Linked DNA regions of Homo sapiens. The protein of the gene in region 1 interacts with the protein of each later gene in a pairwise test. Each region holds a gene or a part of one and is shown on either strand. Other genes may lie near its edges.

Region 1 (7,330 bases):
TTATCATTACATACTGTCAATATGTGTCTCAAAACCTAATTCTTGACAGTAGCGTAGAGGCACATCAGGGAGTTTCCTCTCCTTCCCCCAGTATCAGTGGGAGTAAGAGAAATAATTACACTGAAGCATAGTAGGAAGAAGGAATTATCAGGGCAAGGCACACTGCAGCAAAAAAGTCATTTCAACAACACCATCGCAAGACCATTTCATAAGATACGGTCAGTTAAAAAAAAAAAACTTCTAAGAAATGTCATAATTGCAAGGTCAGATAAATAGATGACACTCCCTTTTCTTCGAGGAAAGCATCTGAGAACTACATGCACATTGAAATTTTTAGAAAATAAGAAAGTATATCAAATCTTAAATCTTGTTTACAAGGTTCTGTCACTTCCTAGCAATGTGGCTTCAGGCAAGTTTAGCTTGCCTTCAGCCTTATTTTCCTCATCTGGACTATATTAGTACATATCTGGCAAACTGAGAATTCGGTAATACGACTAAGTGCCTAGCTCTTTTATCTCAACAAGGAAAAAAGGGATTAGGAGATGTTTAGCGTTACTCAGTCTAAAAGTTCTGTTTGATGGAGCCCTAAGAGAGGTGTTTTAATTGCTAAGCAAAGATAGAGAAGTAGAAAGAGCAAATACACAAGGTTGCAGGAAAAACGTTTCCATCTTCTACATTCTTAATCCGTGAAAACAATTTGAGAGAGAGAGAGAAAAAAGAAGAGGGTCCTCCTTCTGAAGTCAGTAACAGATACACCACTGGAGAAAATGCTAACAGTTCCCCCCCACCCCACCCACTGATAGACCATTAGAAGAAAAAGAGGTTAGGGGAGAAGAAATAGGATTAAGAAAATTGCTACTGTCAGATTTGATGACTCAGGTAGATAACTGTTAAAAATGTTTTTCCAACTCCACTTTTCAGTGTGTCGTTCTGCTTATTTACATGTACACATGCCACTGTCAACCAATTCCTGTAATTAACCAAGATTAAATCAGGATTCACGATGAAAACAAAAACTTTATTACTTTAAGACAACTATAGCTTAATAATATATTAAAAATATATAAAAGTGTATCAAATTTAAATATTTAGTAAAATTTAATAGTTTTGGCTTTGTCCATTCTTCTTGCATGTGCATACATACTGATTTGTATTTCAGAGTATATGCTTAAGAGTATAAGCAAAAACGAAACAAAAAATTTCTAAAACATATGCCACATGGCTTTATGGTCCCCCAGTCAGAACTAACAACAACTTACCTTCAAGTTTTTTAAGCAGCAATTCTATCACAGATAAAGCTTCTGTTCTCACAGATGAGTAGGTCTTATTTTCTAAAAAGAAATATCATACAGTTCATATGGCCTGCCTGAAAAACACAACCTCCAAGATTAAATTTGTGTTGCTGAAAGAAAGATGTCCAGAAATTACAACTCTAGGGAAGGGTATATCTGATTTTTTTTTTTTAAAGGAAGCTTCCCTTTGCTAAGTATCAAATACTTGAAATGTGTGCTAATGTCCACAGTCTTTACTTTGGAAAAACAAAAACCTGTCAGCCAAGTATACCAATCACCACAACAAATGGCAATATTTAAATGATCCATTTTAGAAGTGGGAGATGAAAAAACTATCTCAAACACAAAATCATCTTCGTATCACGGATAAGAACGATCCTTAGGTCTACATGACCCTCCTCATTTTACCAAAGAACATTATATGACCCAGTGTTTAAGCCGATCAGGGACACCTGGAACTCAGCAAAGAGAGGTCTGTTGGCTGCCTGTTCTTTATCCATAAAAGGATGCTGCTGCCAACAACTGCGAATGAAACATGCTTCCTTGGCATCCACTCTTTGACACGGCGTCTGGTTCATGGTGAAATTGTCTACCAAAAAAATCAACACACAACCAAGCCCAAAGCAGGGTAGGCATGAGATGGGCCTTATCATCTTGTTATGCTACAAAGTACAAAAGTGCTACAAAGAGTGACGGTGACCTGTCAAAAGGACACAGGAGGCAGCTTGAAAGGGCTTCCACTGGCCAAATCTGGGACAACTGGAATAACGAATTAGATTTAAAAAATTAAATTATAAACCATTTGAAGGGGGAAAGATTCCATGAATCAATGCCAGTAACAGATAAATAAAAACATGGGCAGAAGAGAAGAATCTTGCTTACAACAGAATTCCAACTATCAAATGGTGAATGTGGACAAAGTGCTAGAGTTGCAAAATCATCTTAGTAAAAATTGGTTCAGGGAAGAATCATCAATGCATGCTAAATATAGAGAAGAAATTTTAAAGAAGAGAAACAAATTACTTGAATGATCTTAAGATCTGTTCCCACAGGCTACTTATTAGACACAAAAAGAAAACATAGTAACTATCCAGTAGAGAAAAACTGATAGTACCTTGACCAGGTAATCAAAATTAACATCACAAATGATGACAGATGGACACTGTGTGCCTCTTAATGTGAGGACACATCACTTATGTATGTATCCCAACTGGGAATTCACAACCTGGATATAATCATGAGAAAACATCAAACACCAAATGAGAAACATTCTGTTTTTTCAAAAAGGGAAGTCGGGGGGACTTTATTCTTCAAAATTGTCAATGTCCTAAGACAAAGAAAGGCTGACGAAGTATTCCAGATTGAAGGAGACTAAAAATATATGACAATAAAATTCAATAAATAATCCTGGAGGCCAAGGCGGGCAGATCACTTGAGGTCAGGAGTTCAAGACCAGCCTAGCCAACATGGTGAAACCCCGTCTCTACTAAAAATACAAAAATTAGCCAGGCATGATGGCACACACCTGTAATTCCAGTTACTTGGGAAACTGAGGCAGGAGAATCACTTAAACCCAGAAGGCAGAGTTGCAGTGAGCCAAGATCACGCCACTGCACTCCAGCCTGGGTGACAGAGCAAGACCCTGTCTCAAAAATAATAATAACCATTATCATCATCATCATCATCATCATCATCATCATCATCACCTGGACTGGATTCCCTAATGGAGGGGAGGGGGAAAAAATCCTATAAAGAACATTACTGGCTGGGTGTGGTGGCTCATGCCTATAACTCCAGTACTTTGGGAGGCCAAGGCAGGTGGACTGCTTGAGCTCAGGAGTTTTGAGACCAGCCTGGCCAACTTCGTGAAGCCCTGTCTCTACAAAAATACAAAAATCAGCTGGGCGTGACAGTACACACTTGTAATCCCAGCTACTTGGGAGACTGAGGCAGGAGGACTGCTTGAACCTGGAAGGTAGAGGTTGCAATGAGCTGAGATCACACCACTGCACTCCAACCTGAGTGACAGAGCGAGACTCCAACTCAAAAAAAATAAAAATAAAAATAAAGAACATTACCGAATCAACTGAACAAACTAGAATATGAACGATAAACATTTGATTTAAAAAACTGCATCCATGTTTACTACCTAAAGTTGACAACTGTACCGTGGCACACTAAATAATTGAGGAACAAGGGGGCCTGAAGTAAGCAACATACTTTCAAATGGTTCAGGAGAAAAACATGTATATAGAAGTCCAAATGACAAAGCAAATGGCACAAAATGTTAACAAATGATTCTGCATAAAGTGTATACATATTGCAGAGTATTACATGTACTGTCGTTGCAACCATTCTGTAAGTTTGAAATTACTTTCAAGTAACAATTTTGTAAAAATACTTGTCACGAAGGTTTTTCTAAACTAGATGCTAAAATCCTGTTATAGTTCCAGATTTAAATATTCCAGTTAAGGGGTACACATGGAGTATAATAAGTAGCAGAGTCCAGTAGCTATTTCAGAAATTTAGTTCCTAAGACAAAGTAGGAAATATTTGAAGCTCAGCTCCTTAGCTTTAAAATTAGGACTCCCTCATCAGTTTTAGTTTACTACACTCACCTAAAGAATATGTGATTGATTTACAAGTTTCAAGCAGAATTTCAGCCAAAGCCTCAGGATCGGCATGTTCTTCTTCCAAAAGCATTAACCTATACAAATCAGAAAGCAAGGTACAAATGCCAATTATTAAGAAACAGTCTAAAACTTTCCTGTCACAATTTCTATCTGTATGTATCACTGTCACTTTAGCTACCAGTTTTTAAATGTATAAAAATTCCATTGATTATACATAAAATGCTGCGGGGAGGAACAAAATAAAAAACTGAGCCATGAAGCAATTTACCCCTGAAAAAAGGCATTCATTGATTGCAGGACTCCTAGCTGCACTTTCCACGTGCTGAGTTTTAGCCGTTCACACATCAGTTTGCACAGCTCCTGACGATAACAACCTGGGAAAAAAAGACAAGGTGGGACAGAGCAGGAGACAGTATAAAAGAACAAGAGATGGAATAAATGAGGGACAGGCAGAGAGAGCAAGAGAAAGGAAGAGGGAAAGAGAAAGAGAGAAGGTGGGGAGGATAAGAGAGAGAAAAGCAGGAAAAAGAGAAATAAAACAATAAATACTTTTAATTAAAGCCATTGAAATTTCCCCAAAAACTTCAGCATGACTTTGTACTCAATCCCCAAACAAATTTCCTTGATCAGAAACTGCCCCCACAAAGGTGCAATATAATTGTTCACAAATATTCACTTTCAAGGCATATGGTTCTCCATGGAACTGAGAAAGCACTTTAACCACACTCCCTTTGCCCCTCAAAACTCCCTGAATGACAGCCACAGAAAGAACTCTGGAGGCCAGAAGCTCCTCTCTAGATGCTCACAAGCTTCTGCAAATTGCAGGTTTACCAAGAGTCAACAGTGCTTTATTATAAACCTGTTATGCCAACTGCAACTGTAATTATAACTATATAATTAATATTATGCCAACTGATGAATCAGCAGAAAACTCAACAACGAAGTTATTTTTAATTACTGTAGGATTTAGTAGGGCTCAAACAAATGTAAAAATGGGGGGAGGCAATAAAAAATCTAGAATTCTGCACTAGGATTGTCTCATAAGAGCTTGAAATTTCTTTCTCTGTTTTAAAGAAACAAAACCCAGAAATTGTAGATATATATGAGAAGCCAATGTGTAACAGTTAAGTTCCTAAAGAAAAGGCCTTGGTTCTCAATAAATGCACATTTCTATTAACAACCTTCTATGTCTTATATTAAAATAAACTGCTTTATGTTTGTATCATCTTTCTCATATAATTCCCTACTTTAGCTTTCTCTACCTATCAAGGAAAAGTTAATACTCTTTATGGCATCATATTAGTGGACTTCCATGGCAGTCTATAACATAATATTAAGAAATAAAACCACCTGCAAATTTGTATCTTCTGGGAAACCCTTCCTATAAACATAGCAAATATATAAGTTCACACAAAGGATGACAGGGCTCAAAGAGAACCTTAACTGATTCTAGACATATCCAATCACAAATAATCAACAGTACTTTTTATAACATTCAATAATATTGTCGCTGGGCATGGAGGCTCATACCTATAATCCCAGCACTTTGAGAGGGAGGCCAAAGTGGGAGGATCACTTGAGCCCAGGAGTTTGAGACCAACCTGGGCAACATAGCAAGACCTCACCTCTTCAAAAAAAATTTGCTGGGTGTCGTGGCATGCACTTGTAGACCCAAATACTTGGGAGGCTGAGGCAGGAAGATCACTTGAGCCCAGGAGGTAAAGGCTGCAAGAACTGCACCACTGCACTCCAGCCTGGGCAACAAAGCAAGACCCTGTCTCAAAAAAAAAACAAACAAAAAAAAAACGAATACTAAGATCTTCAGCAGGATGCACTGTAGGACCCAACACAAGGCAAGCTTAAAGGGTAGCATCATCACTTCTTGGCCTTTTGGCTAAGATCAAGTGTAAAGGGTAGTATCATCCCAAGGTTAAGGCCCTGTCAGGGGACTCCAAACTAACTGCAACCTCATCCAATAATAGAGGTTTACTGTTCATTTAATCTTTGGGAAATACATGTCCAGTTCTGAAAATTGTCCAAATAGTAATGAGTTTTTCACTGAAACAGGGATTTCAGTTGCTTACTGAACACTTGGTAACAAGACCATTCATTTCAGGATAAAGAGACCCTGCTAATAAACTTTGTGCATTCCTCTGAATAGAGCTATGATCATCAAGAAGATCAGTAGAACTCGTCTATCAAACTATCTGCATAAAATGTATCATGGTTATTATAGGTGGAACTGTGCCCCCAAAATTCGTATGTTAAAATACTATCCCCCAGTACCTCAGAATTTGACTGTATTATTATTAAATAGAAGACAGAGCCTTTAAAGAGGTCATATGAGTGGGCCCTAATCCAGCGTGCCTGGTGTCCTTATAGGAAGAGGTGATTAGGGCACAGAGACACCAAAGACCACGTGAAGACACAGGGAGAAGACAGCCATTCCCAAGCCAAGGAGAGAGGTCTCAGGAGAAACTAACCCTGCTGACGCCTTGATCTCGAAATCTCAGACTTCTATCCTCCAGAATTGTGAGAAAATAAATTTCTGCTAAGCCACCCAGTCTGTGATACTTTCTTACAGCAGCCCTAGCTACAGCGGTACAATGATCAGTGAGATCACAGACTCATGTAGACAAAAAACTTTCACTGGATAATTCTCATTATTAATCAATCAGGCTCGATAAGAAACAATAACTATAATTTGTCATAGAGAAAATTCTTCGCTCTCATTAAGTAACCTCTGGTTACAGCACTTCAAATGCAGTTTCTGGTGCTTACGTTGGGTCTCCGCGTTTCGCGGCCAGGCTTTGCCCAGGCTTTCAAAGGCACCCAGCAGATATTCCAGCTGGAGCTCCTTTTCCTTTTCATTCTCCTCTTCATTTTTGGTTGTCCGGACCCCACTGCTTTCAAGTGAGTTCTAGGATATATCAAAGAAAAGAAAATGTAATATTTTCTTCTTCAAAGTTACAGGTATACTATTAAAGCTATCAGGGTACCAACCAAGGCAGGAGATATTAACCAAGAGTTAAATGATAAATTCTCTACCATAAGTTTCCCTATTTACAACAAGAATTTATAACCAGAATACTGTATCTCTAATAAATTTAGGCAATACTTTACAGGCATCTGTAAACAAAAGCTAAAAAATACTGCATATGTAGTCTTTTGAGCATAACATGAAAAGACTTGCATTAGAATCAGATTTTAAAGATGGAAGAAACTCAGTAATGATCTAAATCCAAACTCTTTCTTGATAGAGAAACAGAGGCTAAGAGAAGCAACTGGTCCAGCTTGCTAGTGATGTAATCAACTTAAAACACAAGTCTCCCAAATCCATATGCTATCACTATGTTTGTAATGGAAATTATTTAAATAGCCTTATTACTGAAAGAAAACAACTGC
Region 2 (7,635 bases), on another chromosome or scaffold:
GCAGAATGGAGACCAAAGGAAGGGAGGCAAGCAGGCAACAACCTGCTGTAGTCCAGGAGACAGTGACAAGGGCCCAAACTAGGGGGACCGACTGTTCCAGTTTGCCCAAGATTATACCAGTTTTAGCCCTGGAAGTCCAGCATCCTGGGAAACTCCTCATCCCAGGCAAACTGGGAGGGTTGGCCACCCCTCCCCCAAGACCCTGAACCAGGACACTGGAGGCCGCTGTTCCCTGGGGCCTTGCCTGCCATGAGAAGTGATCCAGTCACTACTGCTTCCAGGGGATTTTAAACGTCCCCTGTTCTGCCCTACCCTCCATCTCCACAGGCCCCTCGTCCCACCACCACTCCTGGGTCTACTTTCACTGGATTCTAGACCTAGAATCCAGTGAAACATAAATCTCTTTACGTATCTAGGCCTCCAGATACGTAAAGAGATTTGTGAGGAAATCAGCTCCACTTATCGCTTTCCAGCCTTCTCTTCTTCTACTCCCCTCCACCAACCTGAGACTCCTATCAAACTAAACCACCCCGTGTGCCAAAGCAAACCTCTGGTCTTTTGTGTATGCTGGGCCACTGTAGGAAATGTCATCCTCCCCACTTCTCAACCTGTTAGAGCACATTGCAAATACTCCCTCCCCACAGCTGAATAGGAGCGCTAGTGAACAGCTCCTGGATGGCAGACACTGCACGAGAAGCTTTTCAAACACTGCCACTACATCTCACAGCAAAGAAATAGGATGCATCCTTTTTACCAGATGAAGAAACCAAGACTCAAAGAGAGGAAGTGTCTGGTCCAAGGTCACACAGCTGCTAGTGTTCGTCTCTGTCTCCTTTGGAATTCTCTGATGGCCCCAATCCTTGTATTGATGACATATGCACTTCTTTCATTCCCTGTCCGTGCCCCCTGCCCCATAACCCAACACACATGCAATTGTAAACCTAGAACAATACCAGACTTAGAGTAAGTAGGGCCTCAAGAAAAATTTGGTGAATGAAGGGATTAGGTACACTCCTTCTAGAATACCTAGCCTGGTGCTTGGCATTAAATAGGTTCTCCATTGTTGTTGTTTAAGACAGGGTCTTGCTCTGTCATCCAGGCTGGAGTGCAGTGGTACATTCTTGGCTCACTGCAGTCTCGACCTTCTGGGCTCTAGAGATTCTTCCACCTCAGCCTCCAAAGTGAGTAGCTGGGACTACAGGTCTGCACCACCATGCTCAGCTAATTTTTGTATTTTTAGTAGACACAGGGTTTCACCATGTTGGCCAGGCTGGTCTCAAACTCCTGGACTCAAGTGATGCGCCCACCTCAGCCTCCCAAAGTGCTGGGATTACAGGCGTGAGCCACCATGCCTGGGCCTAATGTTTTCAATTGAGCTGAAATTGTAATACCTAACCATATAAGGGTATGACAGAGGGAGAAGATCAGAAGAAAACAAATTATGGCAAAACCTCAGCTATCCAAAGCTGTCTGGAAATGAGTCATTCCAAAGGCTGAGGGTGAACCTTTGAATCAGAGCTACCCTTTCTGAATCAGAGCTTTGAATCAGAGCTACCCCTTCACTTCCACCACCCTTTCTGAGCTCTCTGGTCCCGGTCCCCTTGATCTGTTTCCTTCCACTTTTCTCCTTTCTTTGTTTTTCTGTTGCTCCTTTGAAGTTTCTTTGGGGTCCAGCTTATCACAGCCCCGTTTGATGAGCTCACGGCCGTCTCTTGGACTGCCCGTCCAGGCCTCTCTCGCCTGATCCATTTCTCCTCACTGCAGCAGGCCCTCTTCCACAGACCCCTCCCTCACCTCCCAGGGCAGGCAGGTGCTTCTCTCGTCTGTGCAACCCACAGCACCCCATGCAGGTGTCTGCTTTTACACCTACTTCCAACACTGGACTGTGAGTTTCTTGAGGGTGGGAATCACGTCAACCTTCAATGTCTACAAATGAAATTGGCAGGCCCTTTGTGCTCCTTGGCAACCCTTCCTTCTTTATTGCTTACTCTGAGGCTGCCAAGCTTCTGCTTGTTGGTTGATGAATTGTAACTGGGAAATCACGAGTGCTGGATGTTCAGGGTTTATCTGCTAGCCTAATTATCTTCTTCTTGCTCTTTCTTTGTTCACTGATGTTTATGTTATACTTGTCCATTTGGCTCAAGAGAGCTCCAGCTGGGCCAGCGTGCTCTGTCTTTGGGAGCAAAGGGTGGCCAATCTGGGTCAGTCTATCTTGCCTGAGGCATCAAGAGACCTGGTCTCCCTCACAGGTTCAACAGACATTTACTTGAGTGCCTGCTCTGCACCAGACCCTGACCCAGATGTTAGGGAGACAGAGGTAGAAAACTGTCTGGCCCTGTCTGCCTCTGGTTCCTGCATCACCTTGAGCCCTTTCCAGATCTCCTCCATTCACCCATCTGAAAGTGGAGGGGAGCGGAGACCTGATCTGTAAGGGGCGTTGGAGCTCTTGATACTGTGGATCTCGTCTGGCCTGGGCACTCTAAGCCCCTCCATATCTCTGCTTTCCCTGAGCAGAGCCAAGCCTGCCTCTCTTACCTCCCTCCCTCCTCCCGTGCAAATTCTGAGCAGATACGCTCTGATACATCTCACCTTCTATGTGGTCAAGCAGCCCCAAGAAGCAGCTGGAGAACCCCAGCTAGCCCAAGGGGAAGAAAAGAAAGAGGAGGAAGAGGAAGGTGTCGCATGTCAGATGACCATCTAGTGCACACGGGGGAGTGAAAGCACACCCTGACATACCAGAAAAGTTCCCCAAGCTCAGCTCTGAAGAGTCACATTGGTCAGTCTAATGCGGGAAGCCCAAAGCAGAGTGGGGGTGGGGAGATGACAGAGTTCCAACAATCTCCCTGGAAAAGGGACCAATGCCCCCTTGCACTTATAGAACCCTTGATACCATTTTTGTATCTCATTTTCCCAGCAACCCCTTCAGTTATGTTTAACAGATGTTTTTGACTACCTTCTATATTCAAGGCCTTCTGCTGGGAGTACTGGGCTTTTCCTGTAGGACACATTGCAACTTCAAGTGTACAGACATTTTATCTTAATTTTATTTTATTATTTATTTATTTACTTATTTTGTAGAGATGGCATCTCGTTATGTTACCCAGGCCGGTCTGGAGCTTCTGGGCTCAAGTAACCCTCCCGCTTCAGCCTCCCAAAGTGCCAGGATTACAGGCATGAGCCACCGCACCCAGCCTAACATTTTTGTGATTTTTTTTTTGTTTTAATGTCTGTCTCCTCCACTAGACTGTAGACTCAAAGAAGGCAAGAATCATGTCTGTCTTCTTCCCTACTGAATCCTCAGCACCTAAACACAGTGCCTGGCAAACAGCAGTCACTCAATAGATAGTGACAGAAAAAATATATCCAACATGGTGAAACTCTCTCACTACTAAAAATACAAAAACTAGCTGGACGTGGTGGCGCACGCCAGTAGTCCCAGCTACGCAGGAGGATGAGGCAGGAGAATCACTTGAACCCAGAAGGCAGAGGTTGCAGTGATCCGAGATCACGCCACTGCACTCCAGCCTGGGCGACACAGTGAGACTCTGTCTGGAAAAAAAAAAACAAACGAAACAAACAAACAGAAAAAAAACGGTCTGAGACCTGGGAACAGTCTTCAGTTTTCCAAAGGCTATTACACAGAAGCAAGCCTCAGCCTGAAACATATGTTACTTGTTCAATATGTGTTACTTGAACTCAGTGAGTAGTAATGACAGGAAACGGTGCCAGGCTGTGTGCTAAGCACTTTATATTCATTCACTTATCTAATCCTCAGAACTACTCTAAGAAGTAGGTACTATTATAGTCCCACTTTTACAGATGGAGAAACTGGGGCATAGAGGTTCACCACCTTGTAAGTGACAGAGCTGAGATGTGAACCCCAGCTATCTGGCTCTAAAGTCTATGCCCCTAACCTATATTACATTCTAGCAATGAATGCTCAAACTGAGCTCTAGAGAGATGTAACATTTTCCAAAGGTGTCACAGGAAGAGCATGGCAGAGCTGGGACTGGGAGCCAGGTCTTCCTTCTGTGCAATGTTTCTCCCGCTCTATGATAAGGTATCTGGCCACTGAGGCAGGTCCCTTGGGACTAGAGGCACAAAGAGGGATCTGAAGAGTCTATTAACAGATATCCGGTGCAGAAAAACAGCCCCAGTGGGCTAGGTGACTCAGCAGAAGACAAGAGGAGACAAAGGGTAACCACTAGGGCAGGAACAAGTGTGGCTGCCAAGTCCCTTTTCTTAAGCAGGGAAAGGTAGTGGGGTGCTTTTCGGAGGTCCTATTTGAGGCCCAAGATACTCTCTTCCTGCGCTGATTTATCAAGAGTGCCCCTCCCCCACAGCTAGAGCCGCCCCAGGGCCATTTCTGCTTCATTACAATTGGGCACACGTGGAGAAAGGATACTACTGGGGAGATCAATTATATTGCCTGATCTGCAACCTGATGTGTGGGTAGGAAGTTGGGGCGGGGCAGTGGAGGAAAAGTTTGGTCAAGCCTGACAAAACCCCAGCAGCTAATCTTACTCCACAGTAAGAGATTATAGCAAAGCATCTATAATCAACTCAGCTTAAGAAGTTTTGACCTTCTGGTTAGGCTTCTTGCCACAACAGAACAGCACCATAACCATGGCTTTCTTCTCCCGACTGAATCTCCAGGAGGGCCTCCAAACCTTCTTTGTTTTGCAATGGATCCCAGTCTATATATTTTTAGGTGAGTGAACCCCAAGGGCTGGAGAGCACATGGGGAACAAACCAAAAGAGTGGCCAATCTCCAGATGAGGAGGGTTCCAAAGAGATCATCTGGGTGATCTCCACCCTCTGGGAAGGATCTGGCTGGCACAAAGGCCAGGAGTGAGGCTGCAGCTGTTCTGGTTTAAAGATTACTCCAGGCCAGGCACGGTGGCTCAGGCCTATAATCCCAGCACTTTGGGAGGCCGAGGCAGGTGGATCACCTGAGGTCAGGAGTTTGAGACCAGCCTGGCCAACATTGTGAAATCTCGTCTCTACTGAAAAAAAAAAAAATACAAAAATTAGCCAGGCATGGTGGCATGCACTGGTAATCCCAGCTACTTGGGAGGCTGAGACAGGAGAATCACTTGAACCCGGGAGGTGGAGCTTGCAGTGAGCCAAGATCGTGCCACTGCACTCCAGCCTGGGTGACAGAGCAAGACTCCGTCTCAAGATGAAAAAAAAAAAAAAATCACTCCAGTCTTCTCAGGAGCTGTCCCCTATGAACTAGCTGAAAAGAGTCATATTCAGGGACAGGGCAGAAGTGGTGGTGGCTTACAGAGTTGGTGTTACTAGGTAGGTGTAGGGTGATTTTCTAGTCTATGGTTATGGTGAGACAATTCTGGAAAATCTGAGGGCTGCCTGAGTGACATCTCAGACAGAATTTTGAGAAAGAGCCAGTTGTTCTGTGGACTCACAGCACAGAAGTCAACAATGTTGGGCCTCTCCCACCCAAGGCTCTTCTGAGGCAGCTTTTTTTTGTTGTTGTTGAGATGAAGTTTCACTCTTGTCGCCCAGGCTGGAGTGCAAACGGCAAACGGGCTGACAGCTCCAAGATTTTCCCTGCCAGAAACCAGGGATTTGGGGGTGGTCAATTACAGGTGCAAGCTTGAAAACTGGATGAGGAGAAATAATGTCATCCTGAAGGATGAGACAGGTAGGAGACAGCTGGTTCCAACCCATGGGAGGCTATATGACCCTTAGAGCAGAGGCTCTCAACCAGGGTCCTATAGACCAAAAATTCAGGGTGGATGGGGGTTACTTTGAATTGGGATGAATAAAACTGCCTCTTTCTTTCCACTAACCTCTAACTGAAATGTAGTATTTCCTTCAATGATGAATGTAGGCAATAAACCACGAAGTGTTAGGAGTACCTGTGAGTGTCAGTAACAGACATCACAGAGATTTGCATTTCATATTATAGTTGTTGCAGGCATCTCGAAATTTCATTTATGTTCACGACTACTTCAAAATTCCAGTAGTTATTGGCACTGCTGTTAGATCTGGTTATTTAATGCATACATCAAGAAGCACATATGTTACTATATTATATTGTGGGTAATATTTTGATAACTGAATTTTAATATAATGGGTTTCCTTTGTAAATCTGCGTATTTTATTTTGTGCATTTAAACATATTATTCAGAGAAAGGGTCCATGGCTTCACCAGACTGCCAGAGGGGTCCACAGCCTTCTCAAAATGCAGACTTATTAAGCCTTATTAAAATCAAAACATGCTAAGCCCATTGATGGCTTGACTTTAGCTATATCGAGAGAAGAAAGTCATTTTGTTAGTAAACTTAGTTGTTTCTAGACTTTCATAGTTTCCTTTTGTTTTCCTTTGCATTTCCCCTAACTTCCTCAAAAAGACCCCTTTGATAAGTTCTGACCCTCAGCCAGGAAAGTGAGGAGCACAGGAATGTCCTAAGAGACTTGCTATTGGGGTGGCAGCAACCGTGTCAAATCCGGGTCCCAGAAAGAGTGGGCAGAGATGGGGCAGAGAGAGCAGGGGAAAGAGGTCAAGAGAGGATGAGCTATGTGAGCGGGTCCTTTTAGGTGTAGGGCCTGTCCCACCCAAGAATGCTCTTCTGAGGCAGCTTTTTTTTTTTTTTTTTTTTTTGAGATGGAGTTTCACTCTTGTCGCCCAGGCTGGAGTGCAATGGCAGGATCTTGGCTCACTGCTACCTCCGCCTCCCGAGTTCAAGCGATTCTCCTGCTTCAGCTTCCCGAGTAGCCGGGACTACAGGTGTGTGCCACCACGCACAGCTAATTTTTGTATTTTTAGTAGAGACGGGGTATCGCCATGTTAGCCAAGCTGTTCTCAAACTGCTGACCTCAGGTGATCCGCCGACCTAGGCCTCCCAAAGTGCTGGCTGGGATTACCGGCATGAGCCACCGCGCCGGGCCGAGGCAGTGTTTCTAATTAAAATGTACTCATTTTTCTGCCAGAAAATGATACTTTCTCATATATATTTTTCTCTATTTCATTTCCCCTCTCAAAGGACACTGTGTCCTGCTGGGTATAGGGTAGAGAGTGTATCAGACAACTGGATATGTGAGGGACCAAGAAGGTGAGGATTAGCCTCCAAGTAATGCCCCTTTACCCCCAAATCTCAACGGTTTCTAGTTGTCCCAGAAGAGCTGGAGGAGTGGAGTGGGGATGATACCTATGGGTCTTCAGTGGAAACACATAAGAATAAATGGGGCCAGGTGCGGTGGCTCACGCCTGTAATCCCAGCACTTTGGGAGGCCGAGGCGGGTGGATCACAAGATCAAGAGATCGAGACCATCTTGGCCAACATGATGAAACCCCATCTCTACTAAAAATAGAAAAATTAGCTGTGTGTGGTGGCGCGTGCCTGTAGTCCTAGCTACTCGGGAGGCTGAGGAAGGAGAATCACTTGAACCCGAGAGGCAGAGGTTGCAGTGAGCCAAGATTGCGCCACTGCACTCCAGCCTGGTGACAGAGCAAGACTCTGTCTCAAACAAAAAAAGTAAAAAATAAAAAATAAAAATAAAAATAAAGAATAAACGGGATTTTTTTTCACCTTCATTTTTAAAAGTTATTTTTATTGTGGTACAATACCTAGAACATAAAATTTACCGTTTTAACCATTTCTAAGTATG

The links. The genes of interacting proteins can lie anywhere in the genome.
Region 2: the proteins of ECPAS (region 1) and DGAT2L6 interact in binary tests that used the Homo sapiens proteins (3 or more experiments, as listed by UniProt).

The regions. Positions count from the first base shown.
Region 1 is NC_000009.12:111,362,329-111,369,658, forward strand, and holds part of ECPAS (proteasome adapter and scaffold protein ECM29), read right to left. Parts: intron 6,846-7,330; coding exon 6,707-6,845; intron 4,300-6,706; coding exon 4,194-4,299; intron 4,000-4,193; coding exon 3,911-3,999; intron 1,332-3,910; coding exon 1,260-1,331; intron 971-1,259; coding exon of another isoform or gene 960-970; exon of another isoform or gene 1-959. UniProt on the Homo sapiens protein: Adapter/scaffolding protein that binds to the 26S proteasome, motor proteins and other compartment specific proteins. May couple the proteasome to different compartments including endosome, endoplasmic reticulum and centrosome.
Region 2 is NC_000023.11:70,172,957-70,180,591, forward strand, and holds the start of DGAT2L6 (diacylglycerol O-acyltransferase 2-like protein 6), read left to right. Parts: upstream 1-4,526; 5' UTR 4,527-4,626; coding exon 4,627-4,711; intron 4,712-7,635. UniProt on the Homo sapiens protein: Diglyceride acyltransferase that uses fatty acyl-CoA as substrate. Particularly active with oleate as a substrate. Has no wax synthase activity to produce wax esters.